2 linked regions of the Homo sapiens genome follow. The main gene of each other region encodes a partner of the protein of the gene in region 2 in a complex. Each region holds a gene or a part of one and is shown on either strand. Other genes may lie near its edges. The genes, in order: OPRL1 and PNOC.

Region 1 (4,338 bases), on a different chromosome or scaffold from region 2:
TCACAGTCATCACCATCACCACCATGATCACTGCCATCATCACCACCACCATCACCACCATAATCCCCCCCAACTATTACAACCATTAACTTATTTAACAAAAATTTATTAATCACCAACGATTTTCCCAGCCCTTTCCAGCACCATTTCAGGTGCTTGGATACACTCATACCTTATTAGCATCCCTCCTGTCCCCCCGTCACCATTTTCGGTCTCCATTGCTAGGCAGCAGTGTGGACTTGGAAGCCTTTTGATATGTTCTTACAGATTCTGGAGCCCTCAGAAACCTCTGGCAACTGTAGGGTCAGCATTTGAGTCTGTGAGGGGTCATGGAGGGGACTCAAAAGCAAGGGGAGCAGACTCTTTCCCTTAGGGCTCTAAACCTTTGCTCCTGTGCAGAATCCGGGGTGTGTTCTGGTAGCCTACATGCCCTGACTCCTCTAAAGTAGACCTGTGTTTAAGGCTTGGAATCCTTCTGTGTGTGTCAGAGTCACTTGAGGAGCTGGTTAAGACGTTTGACCCCAGGCCCTACCCCCTGAGACTGACTCATGAGTCTCAGGTTGGGTCCAGGAGCTATCACTTACCAAGCCCCCATGGGAACTCTGATGTTAAGGGACTCAGGGCCACTGTAGCTTGTGGTGGCCAAGAGGAGCCCCTTGCCCTTTGCTGCCTGGTCCAGCCAGCATGGCCAAGTGAAGCCTTTCTTCTCCCTCTACTCCGCAGGCACACCAAAATGAAGACAGCCACCAATATTTACATCTTTAACCTGGCCCTGGCCGACACTCTGGTCCTGCTGACGCTGCCCTTCCAGGGCACGGACATCCTCCTGGGCTTCTGGCCGTTTGGGAATGCGCTGTGCAAGACAGTCATTGCCATTGACTACTACAACATGTTCACCAGCACCTTCACCCTAACTGCCATGAGTGTGGATCGCTATGTAGCCATCTGCCACCCCATCCGTGCCCTCGACGTCCGCACGTCCAGCAAAGCCCAGGCTGTCAATGTGGCCATCTGGGCCCTGGCCTCTGTTGTCGGTGTTCCCGTTGCCATCATGGGCTCGGCACAGGTCGAGGATGAAGGTCAGTGGGGTGTCCCCTCCTCCCCTCACCAGGCTCCCTGGCTCCCGGGTGGCTCCTCTGGGCCCACGTGCCCTCCACGTCTCCTGGGCCCACTCTGACCCCGTTTCTCTCCCTGCAGAGATCGAGTGCCTGGTGGAGATCCCTACCCCTCAGGATTACTGGGGCCCGGTGTTTGCCATCTGCATCTTCCTCTTCTCCTTCATCGTCCCCGTGCTCGTCATCTCTGTCTGCTACAGCCTCATGATCCGGCGGCTCCGTGGAGTCCGCCTGCTCTCGGGCTCCCGAGAGAAGGACCGGAACCTGCGGCGCATCACTCGGCTGGTGCTGGTGGTAGTGGCTGTGTTCGTGGGCTGCTGGACGCCTGTCCAGGTCTTCGTGCTGGCCCAAGGGCTGGGGGTTCAGCCGAGCAGCGAGACTGCCGTGGCCATTCTGCGCTTCTGCACGGCCCTGGGCTACGTCAACAGCTGCCTCAACCCCATCCTCTACGCCTTCCTGGATGAGAACTTCAAGGCCTGCTTCCGCAAGTTCTGCTGTGCATCTGCCCTGCGCCGGGACGTGCAGGTGTCTGACCGCGTGCGCAGCATTGCCAAGGACGTGGCCCTGGCCTGCAAGACCTCTGAGACGGTACCGCGGCCCGCATGACTAGGCGTGGACCTGCCCATGGTGCCTGTCAGCCCGCAGAGCCCATCTACGCCCAACACAGAGCTCACACAGGTCACTGCTCTCTAGGCGGACACACCCTGGGCCCTGAGCATCCAGAGCCTGGGATGGGCTTTTCCCTGTGGGCCAGGGATGCTCGGTCCCAGAGGAGGACCTAGTGACATCATGGGACAGGTCAAAGCATTAGGGCCACCTCCATGGCCCCAGACAGACTAAAGCTGCCCTCCTGGTGCAGGGCCGAGGGGACACAAGGACCTACCTGGAAGCAGCTGACATGCTGGTGGACGGCCGTGACTGGAGCCCGTGCCCCTCCCTCCCCGTGCTTCATGTGACTCTTGGCCTCTCTGCTGCTGCGTTGGCAGAACCCTGGGTGGGCAGGCACCCGGAGGAGGAGCAGCAGCTGTGTCATCCTGTGCCCCCCATGTGCTGTGTGCTGTTTGCATGGCAGGGCTCCAGCTGCCTTCAGCCCTGTGACGTCTCCTCAGGGCAGCTGGACAGGCTTGGCACTGCCCGGGAAGTGCAGCAGGCAGCTTTTCTTTGGGGTGGGACTTGCCCTGAGCTTGGAGCTGCCACCTGGAGGACTTGCCTGTTCCGACTCCACCTGTGCAGCCGGGGCCACCCCAGGAGAAAGTGTCCAGGTGGGGGCTGGCAGTCCCTGGCTGCAGACCCCGAGCTGGCCCTGGGCCAGCCGCACCTCTGAAGGTTTTCTGTGTGCTGCACGGTGCAGGCCTCATCCCTGACTGCAGCTTGACTCTGGGCCCAACCCCCATTTCCCTTCAGGAGACCAGCGAGAGGCCCTGGCCCATTCCCTCCAGCGGTGCAATGAACTATCATGCTGTGGACCGTCAACCCAGCCCTGCTTCTCAGTGTGGGGCAGGTGTCTCAGGACGAAGGCGCCGCGTGACCACATGGGCAGCTCTGTTCACAAAGTGGAGGCCTCGTTTTCCTGGTCTTGACTGCTCTGTTTGGGTGGGAGAAGATTCTCTGGGGGTCCCCACATCCTCCCAAGGCTCCCCTCACAGCCTCTCCTTTGCTTGAAGCCAGAGGTCAGTGGCCGTGCTGTGTTGCGGGGGAAGCTGTGTGGAAGGAGAAGCTGGTGGCCACAGCAGAGTCCTGCTCTGGGGACGCCTGCTTCATTTACAAGCCTCAAGATGGCTCTGTGTAGGGCCTGAGCTTGCTGCCCAACGGGAGGATGGCTTCACAGCAGAGCCAGCATGAGGGGTGGGGCCTGGCAGGGCTTGCTTGAGCCAAACTGCAAAGGCTGTGGTGGCTGTGAGGACACTGCGGGGGTTGGGGGGGGGGCGTCTGTACCTCAGGGGATGCCCCGCTGTGGTCACCCAGAGAATCACCCTTCCTGGTCTACAGATGGAAGCTGCAGGTTGGTGACTTTGCAAATGCACTTCCTACAGATGAACTATTAAAAGACCTGCAACATTGAAAAAACTCATTTTTTCCACCAAAACCTTGGCCAGGTAACCTACCTTAGGCACCTGCAAAGAACAGGAAGTGATGGCTGTCTCGCAACAGAGCCTGGGCTGCTCCTCCTGCTCTGGGGAGTCTAGGCCGTGGGGACTGTTCTGGGGAGGCTCATGCTGTCTCCATGACGTCTGTGGCAGGAGTCCCTGAGGACGGGAGCTGCCTAGCTACAGTTTTCTTGCCAAGGCGAGGTGTTTTGTGAATCTGTGCTGATGTAATGTGCACCTTCACGTATTTATGCATGTGGCAAGCGTTACTTCCTGTGCACGTAGCCAGCCCTGGGTCTGTCTCTGGGGTAATGAAAAAGGACCCTAATAAACACCTGCTCACTGGCTGGGTATTCTTTGTAACCAGTGTTTCTGGCTCCTGCCACCTGGGGATTTGCTTCTGGAGTGACTTTTCTGGGATTGGCACGTGGGTGGGAGGAGGCTATGGGTTTAGGCTGAATTCTTGTACCTGTCCTGTGCTGCTCAACAGGCTGGGCTCTGCCCTCAGTGAAACGTCCCCCAGGAGGCTGCAACCCTGGGGAGAGTTGAAGCCAGTTAATGGTGTGTTGGCCGGGCTGTTACCTTTTCTTCAGCACACACGGTTTCTCTCTAAACAACCGATGGCTGCACCTCTCCCCTGCCCCCTGGAAAGAGAGGTTTCCTGAGGATACAGTGGGAGGGTGCTGCTCCCACCCAGGTTGCAGGGTTTTCTTACCCCCATTTCATCTCAGAAGAACCCCTGCTCCTGCTCATTTCCCCTTCCTTGAGCAGATCTGAGGGGAGTTTTGGTGAAGGATGAGCAGACGGCCTCCTCTAGGGCTGGGTACACTCTTGCCATGGACATCTGCCTCCTGGTTCCTGTTTGGCCCAGTTCAGCCCAGGCCGACCTGCAAAACAGAGCAGCTTTGGAGGGTGGGCACGGGCACACTCCAGTCCAAGTACTCGTCTCCAGGGCATGGGCAGATGGGCAAGTTCTGTAGGATTTTCTGTAGGTTTGAATGACAGACACTGTCTTATCCTGGACTGCTATAGCAAAGTACCATAGACTCAGTGGCAATAGAGACATCAGATGTTTATTTCTCATGGTTCTGGAGGCTGGAGATCTGAGATCAGGTGCAGGCACGGTCAGGTTCCGG
Region 2 (7,265 bases):
AGTACACATTCCTAATTTATTTATAAGTTACATACATTATAAAATCCACTAAAATGCAAATTAAGAAAGGTAAGATAAAAACAAAAGTCTCAGTCTCCTGAAGCCCATTGTGAGTTTGGAGGAAGCCAGCGCTCTGGCCACCCTGTGCTCCTGGCACTTGCTCTGTGTGGCTCCTATCAGGAACCCCACACACGTTCCTTGGCCGAATGAATGAAAGGATGAATGGGGAAGGAGGGTGGGGGGAAGATTGCAGGCCAGTGTGGAAAGAGGGGAGGTTGGATCTGAGCCACTGTGGGATGGCAGAGCTGGGGTGCATGGTGAGGCATGCTATCTACTCCACCTGCCAGGCTGGGCCCCCGGGCTGATGATTTTGTGCTTCTGCAATGTTGAAGCAGCTGCCAGTATTTTGAAAAAAAAAAAAAAAAAAAAAAAAAAAAAGAAAGAAAGAAAGAAAGAAACAAACAAAAAAAACCCCACAGGATCGTGGAAAATTGAGACTGAAACTAATTGTAGCCTATCCAGGGAGATGCCCAGAAAACTGGCTTGCCCCTGAAATCGATGTGCTCCAAATCTCATGACTAGTTTGTGATTAGATGGAAAACTTTATGTTCGACTGTGGGATTTAAATAAAGGCGTTTAGAAAATCCAGTTTGCTTCATGACTGCCCAGCAATTCAAGCCACTGCCAGCCACTCATTGTCAGGACGGCTCCCGTTTTCTGAGAAGGGCCCGTCCCTTTCCTAAGATATCTGAGGAGTAGCTCCACCCAGACTCGGAATGCAAGATATTTCAAAGCTTCCTTCGTGGGCTTTGGGAGCTGTGGAGCTGGATGGAGAAATGAGGGATCACTGAACCGTGTCAGTGCAAGTAGAGAACGCTCACCTGAAACTTCCCATTCCTACCAGTGTGCATATGTGCATGTGTGTATTAGCATGAAATAAGCACGTAGACAAGCTTAGCTCACTGCCTGGCACAGAGTGGGTTTCAAGAAATGTTAATTCCTTTGCCCTCATTTTATGTGTTTGACCTGGCTGCTGCCTCCCTCTTCAAAGCCCTTCACCCATCCAAATTCCACCTGCCTTCTCACTTGGTAGGATCCCAGGAATGCCTGGAGGAAATGCTCCTTCTCCCGAATTCTTCTAGCACTTGCTCTCTGGATTATGTGATTTAGGACTGAATTACACCCTGCCTTGCATGGTCCTCTAATTGTTTCTCATGTTTGTGTTACGTCTCTCCTCTACCCCCGACCCCACTATGAGTTCATAAGCACCCCTGACCGTAACGGGGAGATGAACTGGAGCCACAATGCCTTGGCTCAGTCCTGACCCTGCCATGTACTGAATAAATCATTTAATCTCTCAGTTTCAGTTTCTCCAACTGCAACACCGAGATAATGGCACCACCTCACAGGGCTGTTGCTGGGATAATAGGTGTGAAAGCGCCTAAATCGTTGTACAAATGTAAAGTGCTGTTATTATCACCTCTGCTGAATCTACTAGAGCCCCTGCAAGCCTCCCTGCCTGGTGGAGTGTAGACGGTAACTACCTGATTGATTGAATACAGGATAGCTTAGTGACAGCTCTTGTCATAGGCTCCAGGGAGCACAGGTTTGAGCCTAATCCTGCAATCACTCCCTTCACTGACAATGCAAACTCGCCTGCATTTTACAAATCCGTAAGTACTCTCAGCCTTCAGCTGATAAAGCAGGGGCTGCTGCCCTGTGCGCAACAAAACTGCGCCCTCAAAATGACCCGAGGCTGTACCACAGCGCCCTCGCCAGGCAGCACCAGGCGGCACATGCTTTTACAGAGGTGGTGATGGTTGGGGATGGGTTTTCCAGGGACCCTCCTCTGCAGAAGACTCAGCAAGCCCAAAGGAGCACGAATCCTTTTTGTTAAAGGTAACATAGCCTCAGTGTAAGCTTGTAGAATATTTCCCTGCCACACTTTACAAATGAGAAAAAAAGAGGCTGCATGCAGTAGCCACCCACAAGCAGCGAAAAAGAGCAGTATTTGCTTTGGGAGGTTTTGATAAGAAGCCAGGCAGTTACTTTTCCCATCTATGTTGAAAACTCTGGTTTGGGCTTGCTGGCGAATGCCGTGCAAAGCTCATCTTTTGTTAGTCTGCCGAACAATGTTATTGGTTATAATTGGGGCAATTATGGGCTGCTTGAGGAAGCTAAACACAGATGTTTAAGCGCAGGATGGGGGTATTCAAGTCCAAAGCAGCTTGCTTTAAATAGTCCATTTCCCGAATCATCCTGCCTTACTTGAAATTCCCCCAGAACTTGCCCATGTTCAGAGCGAGATTCGGGGAGGAGGGGCTGGGTAGTGAAGCCGGGGAAGCAAGACTCGAGGGAGAGAGATGCACAAAGAGAGGAGGAAGAAAGAAGGTGGCTGAGAGAGCCTCGAGAGTTGGGATGCGGTGACTATGAACGGAGTATTCTGCATGACCTGGGCAAAGACCTTTAGGTGGGGGAGATGGGCAGGGGGAGAGGGATGCCAAGCAAGAGAAGAGCCCTCTAAATGAATCGGGTTCTGGGAGACCAAGGTCACGCCCGTAGAAATGCTCTCTGGAATTCACACGCCGTGGCGCTCAGCAGTGTGTGTATACAGGTGAAGCACACTCCCCAGATCTGGCGCTTCCCCATTATTTGTAGCAATTTCTGCTGGGGGCAGAAGGGAGAAGGGCTCCCTCCGGATTAAAAACTCCCATCTGGATGGCATCAAGTTCAGTGATAGGCGGAGAAGCAGCCTGCGCACCGCATCTGAGAGGAAAGGAAGCCACTGAGAGGAAACCCTCATGAGGGGGCCAGGGTCTTCCTGGGGGCCGCCCCGTGGAAGGCAAACCCCCTCCCAAGTGCCTGCCCCTCCTCTGGCCTCACTCCTCCAGCAGCCTCCTCTCGACACAGAGCAACAACCACGTAGGGGCCACAGCTGGGGAAGCAAAACTTTTCCTCATTTCCAAGTTCCCCTCTTTCTGCTTCTGCGTCTGTCTGAGGTTAAAAAAGAGACTCAGCCCTCCCCCGTTCCCCACCATCCAAGCGCTACAAAGGAGATGAATGAAGAAACCATCTCGCAAGAGGCCAGCAGCATCCACACTGGACAAAGGAGAGAGGCCGAGGAGCCAGCCCCTGGTGGCCCTGCCCTCCCGGAGCTCCACGCAGTTAGTCCAGTTAGTCGCGGTCGGGCTGGGGGCCCCGTGCAGTTGCCTACCTGAGAGCTGTCAGTCCCCGGCTCCCTCCGATGGATGCGAGGCTCGGTTCCGCTTTCTCAGCCACACCAGCATATATATCCTCTCCCCCACGCACAGCCCTCCCCTTCCCTGCCCACCTCCATGACACATACACACACTGACCCCCTTCAGCAACCAAACAGCAGAACCTGCAAGCCTTCCTGGCTGTTCCCTTCCCCCGGCTCTGCCATCAGACCTGTGACATCCCCACCTCCCCATCAATCCATTCTCAAGCCTGCTTCACCTGGACTCTGTTCAGCCAGGATCCCACAGCTGCCTTCCCTGTGCTTCCAGAGGCTCTGTGAGGACTGATGGGGAGCTCTGGCAAGTCAGAAAAAAAGCCTCCTGGTGACAGTGACGAGGCAGACCCCAAATCCTGGAGTCTCCTTGAGCAACCTTTTTGCCTGAGGAGTGAAGAATAGGAGGCAGGCAGAAGGGAGGGGAGCTCATGCCAAGCTCCTACCGACTCGGAGGAGCCCAGGGCTGAGCTAAGCCAAGCCCTGACCTAATGTCATTGCCCCTAACTAGGCCACTCAAGAGGTGGCTGCACCTGCCCTGGGCCAGGTCAGGAGGCATTTCCACAGGTGCCCACAGCATGGTGCAATGGAGAATGCTGAGACTCGAGGCTCAGATGGAAGTGTCTGAAATTCGGCTGTACAGTCAGAGCAAGGCACATCTCTTTGTGAACCTCAAGTCCTCCTTCCGGAAAATGAGTCTAATACTGCCCAGGATGGTTGTGAGTAGAAAAAGGAGATTCTGTTTGAATCTACAACACACGAGGCCCTTAATGAATGTGCTGCATCCTCCCTCTCCTCTCAGCCCGCTTTTCACACTGATTAGTACCACCTGGATGTAGAAATCCCATATCAGTGTCTGGTGTCACAACAGAGAGCTTTTAAAGCTTCTGCAACTTAGGGCATCACTACCGAGGGCCCTGGAGGCTCAGAAGCTCTGGAAGCTTCCCTGTCCCTTACTGCAGAGCCTCTTTGTCTTCTACAGCCGCCGGGGGTTGTGGGCTGCAGGAAAGGAGCTCACAGGCTGAAGGCACAGGCTTGAGGGTTTAGCATCCTTGTGGACCCCACGTTTCCTTACCTTAGGTGAATTTCACCATGACCCTGTCCTTGGTTTTCCTAAGAGGGTCTAAAATATTCCAGAATCCCAGGGTTTGAACCTATGTCATCCAAGGAGCTCAAGCACTCATTCATGTGGTTAAGTCCAGCTCTCTGGTCTACCCAGGACTGGGTGGAGAAGGATTGAGGGAAGCATCTGCCCTGACTGCAAATGGTATAGGGTTTCTTTTTGGGGTAATGGAAATGTTCTGGATTTAGACTGAGGTGATGGTTGCACAACATAGCAAGAATACTAAAACCCACCAAATTGTATGCTTTAAAATGGTGCATTTTATGTTATGGGAATTACATCTCCATAAAAAGAAAATAGGAAAAAGACAGCAAACATCTGCTCAGGTTAAGAGCAACAGGTTCTGAGAATAAAATTTCCCTTCCGTCTGTGTTCACAGCAAAAGGGCTCAGGAGACCAGCATACTCATGATTCTTCACTTAGATCTCTGTTGCCCAAACCTTACACTGCAGGTCGCAGCTACCATTTTGGACTCTTTGGGAAACCAGCATGTTCACTGACTGACACGGGGTCACTTTTGCATCCTGATGTACTTCAGTGTCTCAGGCCTGGAACCTGATTTCATACATGATGTGGCAGATATTGCAGGCTGCCTACCCAATCCCCATTTCCCTGTTCTTCCTTACTAAACGGTACCCTTGATTTTATTCCAGGCATCAATGCACTTAGCTAAAAGACTACATTTCCCATTGACCAAGGGTTGCCAATGAGCATTAAGCTGCAGGTCCTTGGGTGGGGTTTCCAGGAAAGCTTTTTTTTTTTTTTTTTTAGACGGAGTCTTGCTCTGTCGCCCAGGCTGGAGTGCAGTGGCGCCAACTCAGCTCACTGCAAGCTCTGCCTCCCAGGTTCATGCCATTCTCCTGCCTCAGCCTCCTGAGTAGCTGGGACTACAGGCACCTGCCACCATGCCTGGCTAATTTTTTTTTTGTATTTTTTTTTAGTAGAGACGGGGTTTCACCATGTTAGCCAGGATGGTCTTGATCTCCTGACCTTGTGATCTGCCCACTTCGGCCTCCCAAAGTGCTGGGATTACAGGTGTGAGCTACTGAGCCTGGCTGGGAAAGCTCTTTTAAAGGGGGTCAACTCACTGAAGGCCTCTCTCTCTTCTTTGTCCTCCCTCCATCCTGCCTGGGACACAAATGTGATGGCTGGAGCTCTAGCAGCTATCTTGGATTATGAGATAAGACAACTTTGAGGATGGAAGCCATGAGTAAATATGATGGAACATAAAGATGGAAGGATTTTGGGTCCCCCATGACTAATGGAATGGCCATATCAGTCTTGGACTCCAAACTTCAACCTTTTTTTAAAAACAAAAAAAAAACAAAAAAAACCCCAAACATTTATTTCAAATGTCAGTCAGGGTTCAGTTACCCATTGCTGCATAACAAGCCACACCAAGGCCAGAGGCTTGAAACAACAGACCACGTATTTGACTCATGATTCTACAGATTGGGAATTTTGGCTAGTCTCAGCAGGGCAGTTCTTCTGGTCTCAGCCTGACTCTCTTCTGCACCTGCAGTTGGACTCAGAAAGTTGGCTGGGTGTCAGCTGGGGACCTTGGTTCTCTTGCACATGTCTTATCCTTCATGGGTCTCTCACATCCCTCCAGCATATTAACCTGGCATAGTCTCATGGCAAGCCTGAAGTGAAAGCACAAGCAAATACAATCAAGCAAGGGAACAACCGCAAGCACACAGAACCTCTTGAGACCTAAGCATGGAGCTGGCAGTCCATTGCTTTTGCTACATTTGTTGGCTAAGGCCAGTTGCAAGACTGTCCAGAGCCAGGCTGGGTGGAGACTACAAAGTCCCAGGATAATAGAGGGTGGCTATGCAGAAGCCATTCATTGGAGGCATTTGAAACTTTTACTTCCTATGATTTAAGCCATTTAGTTGGATTTTCTATTACATCCAGTGGAAAATTACCTTAAACCAACACACCTGCCTTTGAGCACCTCGTCATTCCCAGGATGTTCAGGCAGCTAAATGCTTTTCTTCCCTTGCAGTTGAGGAAGAGAAAGAGCAAGAGTGAAAAGTCACTTAGCTTCTCTGGACTTTTCTTTCCTCATTTACCAGACAGAAGAGTTGAACCCAACACCTGGATATTCTTGGTGGGTTGAATGAAGCTGCATGTGGTGGCAGGCTGTCTCCAGTGATGGATGGGGAAGGGCAGGATGAACCCAGGAGGGAGTTTAAAACCACTGTTGGGTGGGGGAGTAGAAGAATCTTGCCCCTCAGAAAAGCACAAGTAGACTAGAAATGGTGCAGACTGTGTGGCGTTTGTGATGGCTTCAGGGCTTCCCCCTTGCCACACAGCCACTGAGACTTGGCACTTTGAGAGCCATGGGCTTCCCTTGGGTATGGTAACTGGTCACAGAGCAGCAAGCTGCCCCCTGCTTTTCTGATTGGCAGGATACATTTATTAAAATAGTTGGAAAAGAAAGGTCACATGTTCTTATTTCTACTGCTTTGTGTGTGTGTGCACGCGCGTGTGTGTGTATGCGTGTGTGTGTGTGTGCACAAGAACTTGGAATTAATAAAATTCTTGGCTGGGCGTGGTGGTTCATGCCTGTAATCCCAGCACTTTAGGAGGCCAAGGTGGGAGGTTTGCTTGAGCCCAGGAGTTCAAGACCAGTCTGGGCAACACGGCAAGACCCTGTCTCTATAAAATATAAAAAACTAGCCAGGTGTGGTGGTAAGCACCTGTAGTCTCAGCTACTTGGGAGGCTGAGGAGGGAGGATTACTTGAGCCTGGGAAGTTGAGGCTGCAGTGAGGCATGATTGAGCCACTGCACTCCAGCCTGGGTAACAGAGTAAGACCTTGTCTCATAAAAATAAAATAAAATAAAATAAAATAATGATTTCTTCTGCTTATGAGGTGGCGGAAGTT

What was found.
Region 1: the proteins of PNOC (region 2) and OPRL1 are in contact, whole or in part, in a cryo-EM structure (PDB 8F7X), measured with the Homo sapiens proteins. Residues at the interface, in NP_006219.1 of Homo sapiens: Phe130, Gly131, Gly132, Phe133, Thr134, Gly135, Ala136, Arg137, Lys138, Ser139, Ala140, Arg141, Lys142, Leu143; in NP_000904.1 of Homo sapiens: Gln107, Asp110, Gly114, Phe115, Trp116, Val126, Ile127, Asp130, Tyr131, Met134, Gln192, Glu194, Ile198, Glu199, Cys200, Leu201, Val202, Ile219, Val279, Gln280, Val283, Gln286, Gln291, Pro292, Ser293, Val298, Leu301, Arg302, Thr305, Tyr309.

What each region holds. Positions count from the first base shown.
Region 1 is NC_000020.11:64,097,079-64,101,416, forward strand, and holds the end of OPRL1 (nociceptin receptor), read left to right. Parts: intron 1-723; coding exon 724-1,079; intron 1,080-1,197; coding exon 1,198-1,721; coding exon of another isoform or gene 1,722-1,808; 3' UTR 1,809-3,555; downstream 3,556-4,338.
Region 2 is NC_000008.11:28,313,266-28,320,530, reverse strand, and holds the start of PNOC (prepronociceptin isoform 1 preproprotein), read right to left. Parts: upstream 3,264-7,265; 5' UTR 3,215-3,263; intron 1-3,214.